Linked DNA regions of Homo sapiens: region 1 is linked to region 2. The links come from fine-mapping of genetic effects on gene expression. A gene starts in region 2. The other region holds a variant in brackets. All regions are shown on one strand. Distances are between the middles of the regions.

The links. PIP is the estimated chance that this variant, and not a neighbour inherited with it, causes the effect. A credible set is the group of variants that fine-mapping cannot tell apart.
Region 1: its variant is the best candidate, but not a certain one, in a credible set for the expression of SYT9 in prefrontal cortex (GTEx, PIP 0.77).

Annotation. Positions count from the first base shown.
Region 1 is chr11:7,467,905-7,473,278 of GRCh38, forward strand. SYT9 (synaptotagmin 9) reads left to right here. Exons shown (of 7, transcript NM_175733.4): 7 at 1-1,139. Among named protein-coding and RNA genes, the nearest start is that of SYT9-AS1, 4.8 kb to the left of the region's middle. RefSeq lists an enhancer at 18-77. The variant G/A (reference allele first, on the strand shown) is at 2,344.
Region 2 is chr11:7,249,621-7,254,994 of GRCh38, forward strand. SYT9 (synaptotagmin 9) reads left to right here and starts at 2,284. Exons shown (of 7, transcript NM_175733.4): 1 at 2,284-2,711. The coding sequence starts at 2,567. RefSeq lists a silencer at 2,177-2,316.

The DNA of each region.
Region 1 (5,374 bases), 220 kb after region 2:
CCTCCCCAGGCATCTCATTCATTACTCAGCTTCCTTCCTGACCAAGTCTGCCAACCAATGGCCAGCTATGCGCCTCATCCTCATTGCTTCTGCCTCCACGTAAATGAAACCAAAGGCCTCAGCATATCCTGGGAGGACTGGGGGCTGTTACCTAATGGTCCTCTCTGTCCCATTATAGGTGCAAGGCACCCCATCCACACATTTGCACCACTACTCCAAGATAGTATTTTTCTTTTCACACAATCTCTTTACAGCAGAATCCAGAGTTGGATTGTAGTTTACCTTCCTGGAAAGCTCATTATCTCTGTTTGAATTAACATTTCAGCATGGAACTAACTGGGCGGAGGAAGGATCGTTATACGTCTTCAGAAAGTTCTCATTGCCCCAGCTGCCTAGTACTATACAAGAAGCTCTACTTTGATGGCAGATCTAAGAAGGCTATAGGCCTTTGTTTGTAGGAAGCAGTGTCATTACATTCAAGCTTCACTTCTCTGATTGGCTTCCAACCACTGGGATTCAAAGAGAATCCAAGGTTCTGCCTATGTCTGATGACATAAGGAAAACTTGGCTTCCTCTGCTCAAGGTTCCCCTCTGCTCATCCCTCCTCATTCAGACATCCTCCACCATACCAGTGTTTAGAAGCAAAACATGAAGGGCTAGCGCCACCAGGATAGTTAGCAGAAATATTGTCTGTAAAGCTAGGCAGATGAGCCCAGAAGAATGGTCCCAGAGAAAGCAGACTGGCTCCAATAGATATCAGGCAGCAATCCCAATAAATTCTGACATGTCCTTGGCAATGGAAGCCTGGGTTGGAGATCCTGAGGCAGCTGTGCCTACTGTTCCCCACCTCAGAAGCTTCCTGCCCAGAGAGCCAGCAGCCTTGGGATACTAATGAGGATGCAACTGGCTTATTGGTATGAAATAGAAGGTGGCTTTGTAGGGGCAAGCAGGCAAAGAGTACTATCCACATGGCAGGCAGGTGGCTTTGTGTCTGGAAAGCTTTGCCTAGCCAGTACAGCTGTGAGCAGAGGCTGGTTATAAATTTGAACTCCCTCAGCCCATTTGCAACTCTGCCTCTGTTCTCTTGCATTCTGTTTGGTTGCCCTTTAGTTTCCTAGTAAATGCTCCTTTTGAAAAACTCCAACCTTGTCTTATTTAACTTGGGGGAAGGGGATTCTCCAATGTCTTTTCCAGGATAAAGAAGGAAATTAAAATACCATGAAAAAATGGACATGGCAGTAGAAAGGAAACATTCTGATCAGACCTTGGGAAAAGCTGGTGCCGAGAGAGGGAGAGGCCAGGTGTCCCCCCACCCAACTGGCACTGATTCTCAGCCCCTTCCTCTTACTTCTGTTGGCTTCAAGGAGACCTGCCCTTGATGTGTGTTGCTGCTGAAGCACCCTCCCAGCCAGTGAGTTGGACATATGCAGCAGGCACTTTGATGTCCAGGAAGTACACTGGTACATGACAGGAGCAAGGGTCAGGGAGGGGAGGGGAAAGGTTTCTACAATGCAGATGTTTTCAAAATTCTCCAACAATCATGACTCTAAATGGTATGATTTAGGGCTGGGTGCAGTGACTCACACCTGTAATCTCAGCACTTTGGGAGGCCAAGGCGGGAGGATCACTTGATACCAGAAGTTCAAGACCAGTCTGGCAACATGGAGAGACCACCATCTAATTTCAAAAGAGACCCCCCGCCCCCCCGGCTAATTTTTAAAAAATTAGCAATGTACCTGTAGTCCCAGCTACTTAGGAAGCTGAGATAGGAGAATCGCCTGAGTCCAAGAGCTTGAGGCTACAGCGAGCCAAGATTGCAACACTGCATTTCAGCCTGGGTGACAGAGCAAGGCCCTGTCTCTCTAAAAAAGAAAAAAAAAAGGTATTGTTTAGTTCACATGGCCATCAGTAGAACTACATTTCATATGATGAGAAGAAAATAATTATTTATTTTACACTTGAGTCAGGGAGACTGACAAAGGATAGGTATGGAAAATGGCTTGCTATTTTCATGGCCACCCTGTCCTGCAATGCGGGGGGTGGGAGGGGGGACATTCCAATGACTTACTGCTGCATGACAAAGCACCAAAACATAGTGGCTTAAATAGAAATATATTGTCTCTCATGATTATCTGAGTTGACTGAGCTTAGTTGATGCTCTCCCCTGCAGTCTCATGGTTGCTCTCAGATGGCATCTGGGGCTGGCATCATCTGAATGCCTGCCTCGGATGGATGTCCATAATGGCTTCTTCACTCACATCTGGCTCTGGAATTGAGATAACTGGAACAGCTGCAGAATGGCTGGACATCTCTCTCCACATAGTCTCTCCATATGGTTAGTTC[G/A]GGCTTCCTCACCACAGGGACATCTCAAGATAGTGTTCTGATAAAGTGACTGGCTTCCTCCAGAGCTAGCATTGCAAGTGGTCCAGCTAGATGCTACAAGGTTCTGTTAAGTAAGTTCTAAAGGAACCTAGAGTCATTTCTGCCACATACTAGGGTCAAGAGCAAGTCATAATCTTGAATCAGCCCAGATTCAACGGGAAAGAAATTACACAAGAATGGAATACGAGAAGGTGTGGCTCATCAGGGCCATCTTTGGAGAAAGTGGGGATGGGAGTGGGAGTGGGGAGGTTAATGAGTTAAAGGGCTTCCTAGGTAGCTGTCATTTTAAAAGCACATCGAATGCTCAACACACATGGAGAATGCAATGAGTAATAAGGGGTAGAGAAGAAGGGAAGAGCTAAACTGGACAGTTAAACAGTATAAGCTAAAGAAAAGCAACCGATTCTGACTGATACAGTGCTTATGAACTTTCAATGAAAACAATTTTATGCAAAGTAATTTAATGAACTGAGAAAAGGACACTAATATGGATGTGAATATAGCCAAAAACAATGTCTACTGCCTGTATGTGGCTCCTGATAATTCTGCAGGCCACTTAGCTGCCCCTGGCCACCCACTTCACTGATAGCCACCTGGGACTATTGAGGGTGTCTAGCTTAGGAGTGCCCAGCCTCTGGTATTGCCATTCAAACTCAACCCAGAGAAGAAGGCTCACCTGTTGCTTACTGTGCCCTTCCACATCCTTACAAAGAGTATCTCTCTCACACAGGAGTCCTGAGTTGGTTGCTGGCACAGACCACAACCAGAGGCTGAGTGGCCAGTGAAACTCCTCTGAGACTCAGGTTTTCTCTCTAATGGGAATTCCTGACTCTTCCTTCTTCAGTCCTCTCTCGGGACCAAAGAGGAAGGACACCCCTCAGTATCCTTTGGCAATCACCGTGGACACTTCCGCAGCTATAGAGGTGTTGCTTTGGGATCATCTAAGACAGAGTCAAGCCTTTGGCAATGTTCAGGAAATGCTGGTATGTCTCTGAGATCAGCTTTCAAGAGGAGAGGCATGTTATGAATGGGGCCTTTCTGGGATAGCATACACTATTCTTTGTTCGTTCTTTCTTTCTTTCTTTTTTTTTTTTTTTTTTTTTTGAGATGGATTTTCGCTCCACTTCAGGCTGGAGTGCAGTGGCACAATCTCGGCTCACTGCAACCTCCGCCTCCCAGGTTCAAGCAATTCTCCTGCCTCAGCCTCCTGAATAGCTGGGATTACAGGCGCCCACCACCACACCCAGCTAATTTTTGTGTATTTTTAGTAGAGACAGGGTTTTGCCATGTTGGCCAGGCTGGCTTCGAACTCCTGACCTCAGGTGATCCACCCGCCTTGGCCTTCCCAAGTGTTGGGATTACAGGCATGAGCCACCACGCCCAGCCCCACTATTCTACTTTCTATCAAGTGCATTCCAAGATAGGCTGACCTTCATGGAAGAAGTGAAATAGAAAACTGAGGAAAAGAAAATAATTGGAAAAAAAGTCCCACAAGTCAAGAAAGTACCCCAAGGAAGACTTACAGGACAACTTCCAAGGCAAATGGGAAAAGAGAACATTGGCAATCTAGGAGCTGCAGGAGAGAGCCCTGGTCTTCATCCCTAAGCCCAGGATGAATGTGAGGCAAAAATAGTCTCTGTTCTTTTGGAGGAAGAAAAAGCGAGTGAGCAAGCAAGCAAGAGAGAGAGAAAGAGATAGAGAAAGAAAGAAAAAGAGGGAGGGAGGAAGGGAAGGAAGGGAAGGAAGGGAAGGAAGGGAAGGAAGGAAGGAAGGAAGGAAGGAAGGAAGGAAGGAAGGAAGGAAGGAAGGAAGGAAGGAGCAAGCTCTGAGCAGTGCCACAGACCTGCTTCCAGTGTCCCTGATATAAAGCTCTCTTTGCTCAGTCTCCCAAGAGAACAGATCAAGCTTCTCCCAAGGACTATGGCAGGAACCCACTTCCTTCTTCCACTCAAAAGACTTGTCACTTGCTGCTGGGATCCCTGGGCATATGGGCTGCAAAATTCAACTAGCTGCGTGATCACCTCTGTCACCTCACTCCCTGGTGTCTTCCCACTTGTGTCCAGGAGCTCTGGGCCTGGGAAGGATTAACAACAAAGATTAAAGATGGCCCACAAGGCCTCAGAGGATCAGGAGCCAGCCCTGAAGTCCAGAAATTTTGACTAAGCCTCTGTCATTAGGGTCTCCCAGCTCATCCATAGGCTAATGCCAAACTTTCACAACAGCTAGTGGTTCTCATGACACCTCCTCCTGGTAGAAAGGAAAGAATAAGTCAAAAGGACCTGGGCCACAGATTCTGTCCTCTTGAGTCATTGATTTTGCCTCCCTAAACTATATCTTAAGATAGATTACTCTGTGAAAGCTGGATGACCATTGCCAGACAATTTAAAAAGTATATATATCAATATGAAATGGATTGATGATAATATTGCATATTATAGTTTATAGCACATGGATGGTATTGCTTTTATCCATTTTCTTTATTTTTTGAAAATTGAATTTGTGATTTTAAACATTAAAGATAATAGAAAAATTAATTTTTTGGCTCAATACTAGATTTATTATAGCTATTATTCCAATAATTTATTCATTGAATTAAAGTTATTTCAAAACCATTTGACATAGGAATATTGATAGTTTTTTTTTCTACCAAGTGAACATCATCTTCAAGACATTCACACAATTTAGATAAAATTCCTTTTGCACAGCAGCTGTATCCAGAGGCTTGATCTTGGATTTAGATTTAAATTTATCAAAGAAAGGCAGTTTTTAAAATTTGCCTAATTCAAAGCTCAAAGACTAATGAAATCCTTTCTTCAAATACCTGAAGACATTTGTATTCAGGGCTCTAGAGATGAGCTTATGAACTCTATAAACAACTGGTAAGTAAACCTTCCAGAAACAAGTTTTACCTTTATAGCAGTACCCTTCTCTGCTGGTACCAATTATCCCTCCTAAAGGACTACTTCTATGTGTGAAGCCTCAGTGGGACCCA
Region 2 (5,374 bases):
TAGTAGAAACATAACAGAAACAGCAAAAACACATATTGGTTGAGCCCATACTATGTGGCAGCACTATTACAAGCACTTAAATATATTGCTTTATGTAATCTTTGTAACAGCCCAAAGATACACGTTATCTTTGAGATAAGATGAGAAACCCTAGGCACAAAAATGTTAACTTGCACAAGGTTGGTTGCATAGTAACTAGTCTGTCTAAATCTTGAATGTCTTACTGTCTACTTTATCCAAAGGACACTTTTTAGTTTTTTCTCTTTAAACTATATTTGAAAGTTTACAGTTGATGTTGCTCGCTCCTCTACCAAACACTCCTCCTCCCGTGATCCCTATGACTCCCCTCTGTACAATCTTTCCTCCTGTTCTCATTGCTACCTTCCAATCTCCTCTTTCATTTCTTCAACTCTTCTTTCTTGAAGGAACCATCCCATGTGGCAACTCAGTTTCTACCTTTCCAATGATGATTGCCAGTCTTCACTCTCTCCTAAACTCTAGGCTTGCATTTCTAAGTGTTATTAGGGTGTGAGCACATATGACCCAGGTAACGTTTTGAAACGTTTGTGCCTTTCACTTCTTTCTTATTCCATTGGTTGCAATCTTGTCACTTAATACTTGAAATGTTTTTCAAATTTGGATGTTTCTAGCAATCAGCTAATGCCTTTGGCCTGGTTTAGGCCTTCATCATCTCTTGCCTGGTTTATCAAAGTCATTTTTTAACTGAACTTGTTGCTTTCAGTTCCTCTCTGACATGATGGCATTAGGGTAATATTTCCATGTGCTTCAACACACATACCTTCTCACCATTACTATATGTCCCCCCCGCCACCCCCCCCCAGCATCACACTATCTCTGGTGTCACCTTCTCTGTTCATGGCCTTTTTCTTCTTCTCTAGGGGTTCCCCCCTTTGAAGAAACAGCATCTGCTCAACCTCCCCTACAGGCTCCCTTAAAGCTGGTTTCTCCTCCCTCTGTTTGTCTCTTTGCAACTCTCTGGAGGCATCTTTACCTTTACAACTTTGCATTTTCTCTGCTATTCCCATGTAAGTTCCCTGAAACCCTAGTACCATTCACAGCAGGATTTCAAAGGTTGCCTGTTGCGTGAGCATTCTATAGGATCCCAAATTATCTTTCTGTGCAAATATGAATTGTTGTGATATGTCCGTAGAGACGGCACAACCTCATGGCTAAGAATGATAGTTACCAGTTCTAGAGATCCTACTCTAATTGCTCTAGAGTGGGGGCCTGAACACCAGTATTACAAAAAAGACAAAAGAAAAAGAAGGAAAAAAGAAAAAAGAAAGAGAGAAAATCAAAGCTACCTTCATCATGTATGAATTTGAGCAAGTAACACCTTTGTGAGTCCCCAGGCCCCAGTTTCTCATTGGTAAAATGAGGATAACAATTACACAGACCTTGTTGGGCTATGTACAGAATTAAATGAGATTATGTACCTAAAAGGCTTGTGGCACAGTGACACACACACACACACACACACACACACACACACCCAGAGTACTTCGTGGTTATTTCTAGGCTTTACTGCTTGAAAGGCTGAAAAGATGGGTGGATGAGAGGTGCCCTGAGGTTCCTTCCAACTCTCCAAGATTCTGTGATACTCCTCCTTGGGTGCTGAAGACACTTTGGCAATGTTTGGATTTCCAAACGGTTGCTTAGAAAACTAAGGGACCCACGAAGCCCAGGTAAGCCTCAGGGTCTTTCCCAGGAATCGTTTATTTATTTGATCTTAGTTCTGACCTAGAGCCTCCACCTTCTCCATCCAAATCACCACAGTGGTCGAAAAGGGCCTGTGCTTGGGAAATCCTTCCTTTGTTGGCGAATCTTGGACCCAAACCCTGCATTTGGGCATCTGACACCCATAGGCCCATGGTTCAAACCCAGGCGGCTCTTTCCAAGTTCGAAGCAGGGACTCGGTTCTGCGCATCTGGCGGGTGTGCCCAGATTGTAACCTTCGCACTAGGCATCCAAGAACGTGCTTTGGACACACTCGGCGGTGGGAGCGGGTGCTTGGTTTGCATCAGGGATGAGGGGTGGAGTAGCGAAAGCGCCCGGAGCGCGCACTCACTCACACTCCCCAAGCCAGGGCGCGGCCGCTCTGGGCGCGAGGTCCCAAGCCAAGTCTCGCGCTCGGCCAGGAGCCGGGGAGTACCCCAGGTCCCCGGTCTGGGGCCGCCGCTATCCTACCCTGCGGCGCGCACTCCTGACCTGGCCCCGCCCCCCGGCGGCCGCGAGTAGCGGGCGGAGCGCAAGCAGAGAGGCGCTCTGGGCTGTGCGGCACCGCCTCTCCTCGGTGTCTGGGGAGGGACGGAGGGACCGGGCGGGAGAGAGAGAAAGCCTGACCGACCGGCTGGCGAAGAGCTGCATGCAACCGGTGGGAGGCCGGGCCGGCTGGGTCTGGGGCTCGGGCTCAGGCTCGCACCGTTTCTCGGCAGGTCCCTGGCGGTGAGCGCGGACGGCCCGGAGGCGGCGGCTCTGAGCTGGCAGGCGGAGGGCTGTCTCCTGCGCCCGCCTGCCCGGCGCGGTCCGAGGATGCGGGGGGGCGATGCCCGGGGCCAGGGACGCGCTCTGTCACCAGGCGCTGCAGCTGCTGGCCGAGCTCTGTGCCCGTGGGGCCCTGGAGCACGACAGCTGCCAGGATTTCATTTACCACCTGCGGGACCGTGCCAGACCCCGGCTCCGCGACCCAGGTGAGTGCCGCCACCGCCGCCTGGAGGGACCTAAGGGCCCTGGGCTGGGACTTGGGGCCGCACCGGGGCCTGAGGCAGAACAGCGACGCGGACTGGGAGAGGGCGGGGGGCGGCCACCGAGCCAGGAGAGTGATCAAGAACCAGCGCACTGTGGCCTGATGCTGTAACCAGGCGGGGACCCGGGCGGTGGCTACTGCACGGAGGCCGACTCCGGGTCGGCTAGGGCAGGGTTGGAGGGACCACGCCCGCCACCTGCGCTCCCATCGCCAAGGCTCCTGGGGGCGGCTCCCTAGCTCCGAGCTACGCTCTCCACTTCCCGGGCTATCTGCACTCAGAGCGAGGGGAGGCCGCGGCGGCCTCGGAGCCGTGGGAAGGGGGACGAGGCCGAAGGAAACTCTGGGAAGTTGGGAGTTGGGGACGGCCCCGGGTTGGGGCCGAATCCCACCGGGTGCTGCTCATCCTTTCTCCCAAGCGTCTAGTTCCTTTCCTTGGTATGGGGTGAGAAGGGCGGGACGCGATCCGGCGTTGGGCCGGGGACAGGGTGCTTCTGGCCTTGGGCAGACGGGCCTGAACCCGTTCCCGGCGGGTCGCACGGCATGGAGGTGGCCTGGGCCTGGGCGCTAGGCTCGACCAGCGACTACCGCCGGCCACGATGGGGTTCGTAGACTCGTCGGTCCTGGCTTGTGCACCTGTAGTTACTCCTAGTGAAAGTTGCAAAGCTCTTAACTTTGGAAAGTTCATTTATTTTGGCATTTGACCAATTAAGGTTGGAGGAGGGAGTTTTAGTGGAGCCATTTGCTTTTCCTGAGGTCCCTGGGTCTCCCAGGTCGTCTCATCCGTTACTGGCTACTGGAAAATGCATTCCTTCCAATGTTTGCTTGAGATGTTTCTCACCTGGAGAAATAGTTTTCTCGAATATTCTCCCAACCTAAGTACTTACCAAAACAGCATATTGTGGTTGGATTGTTAAAAATGGGATGAGAAAATGGCCTTTCTCTTGATATTGCTATGTATAAATATTGGAAATGAGCTATTGCCTTGCAAATTATGATGTACGAATTGAAAACAATTTATTATATAAAAATCCATTTATCCAAAAGATAAATTAAAGAATTATTTGATTTATAAAGAGTGTCACACTGAGCCAGACTTAAATAGCATATCCTTGATATATTCAAGATGGTCGTGTGGGGTGAAGTCATCTGCTAAAATTTTAAAGTTTATATCAGATTTTCCCTACCAGAGGCTTTTTTTTCCTATTGAAAAAGAAAAAAATATTGTTTTCCATTGCCGGTGGTTATATTAACTAAGTTTATTGAATGATCATTGATATATTACTTCAAAGTGGATAATTGGGTAGAGAAATACTGATCCCAGTGGTTTCCAGGGAGGTTTAATGTCCAGCCTATGTGCATCTCATTGCTGGATGTGATGTGCTGAATAAACCACAGTCCCTTATCTCACAAGCTGGAGTCCCAGGAAGATGTCTTAAGTCGGGGAAGTTCGTCCTTAAGCAGCAGAAGCAAGACAATTATTTTGCATGCTTTGCCCAAAGCAAGTATTAGTATTGAAACATCTCACTTCCTTGCCTGTGACCAGACCACGAGTTCTCCTTGTTATCCCACATAAGCAGTTGTCTTTGGCTTTACAAGAGAAGATGGATGAGGCCTATCTCTGAATCACATCTTTTTGGCCAGTTTTCTGCTTCTACTCCTTTTAATCCGGGAGCTGGATCCTGTGTTCTCAGATTCTCTTCAGCCCCTACACCAGGCAACCCCTGAGAAAGAGTCACTAAGTAGGCTTCTTACAAGAGGAAATCTGATTCCTTGGCGGAGGAATAGCTAGAGATAGGAGTCGACCTTGCTGCTCTGAGTTCCTGATAGCAGTGCTCTGCTTTCTTAAACTAGGACACAAGGGTTTTGAAGTAGCCCCATGCCCCTGTGGCTCTTTGGTTTTTGTTGGAAAGTAGCCAGCTCATGAGGACAGGGGTGGGGGTTTTCGAGTGCAAGGTGAGAGGAAATGAGGCCAAAGATTACATCCAAAGTGCACCCTCTCCTTCAGGACACTTCTCCCTTCATTTCCAAATCTCCCTTCATTTCCCTCCTTCCTTGCCTTGCCGACATTAATTCTTACATCAGATGCATTTGTCTTCATCCCTCTGAAGCAAGAGTGTCTTTAATCTCGGAACCCTAAAAGCTGAGTAGTAGAAAAGCTGCACCACACAACGCCGTGTGAATAATGTCCCTGCTGTTGATAGTGTGAACCAGAACAACCATGCACAGCAGCCCTGAGACATGGGTTCCTAGAGAGAGTCATCTCGGTAAATGGATGACTTCTTTTTCTGGAAAGGAATCCACCTGAATGCCATGTCCCAGCTTTCTCTGTTATTGTCCATTCACGGCCACCCTGTGATAGCTAGGTTTTCTCAAGCTGAACTAAGGACTTTGGTTATAAAAGGAGAAAAAAGATATAATTTCCTGTGGACAGCAAAGTGACCCTGCATCTAGGAAATTTACTCATTTTTTCAGAGGTGTGGAAAGACTAGGGCACAGACCAGCGGGCCTGAGCCATCAGAAAGGTTCTTTTTTGTCCAGGTAGTTATAGTGCCCTGTTGGGGGAGTACCGCACCCAGATTTCCCTGACTTGGTGTTCACAGAGGACTT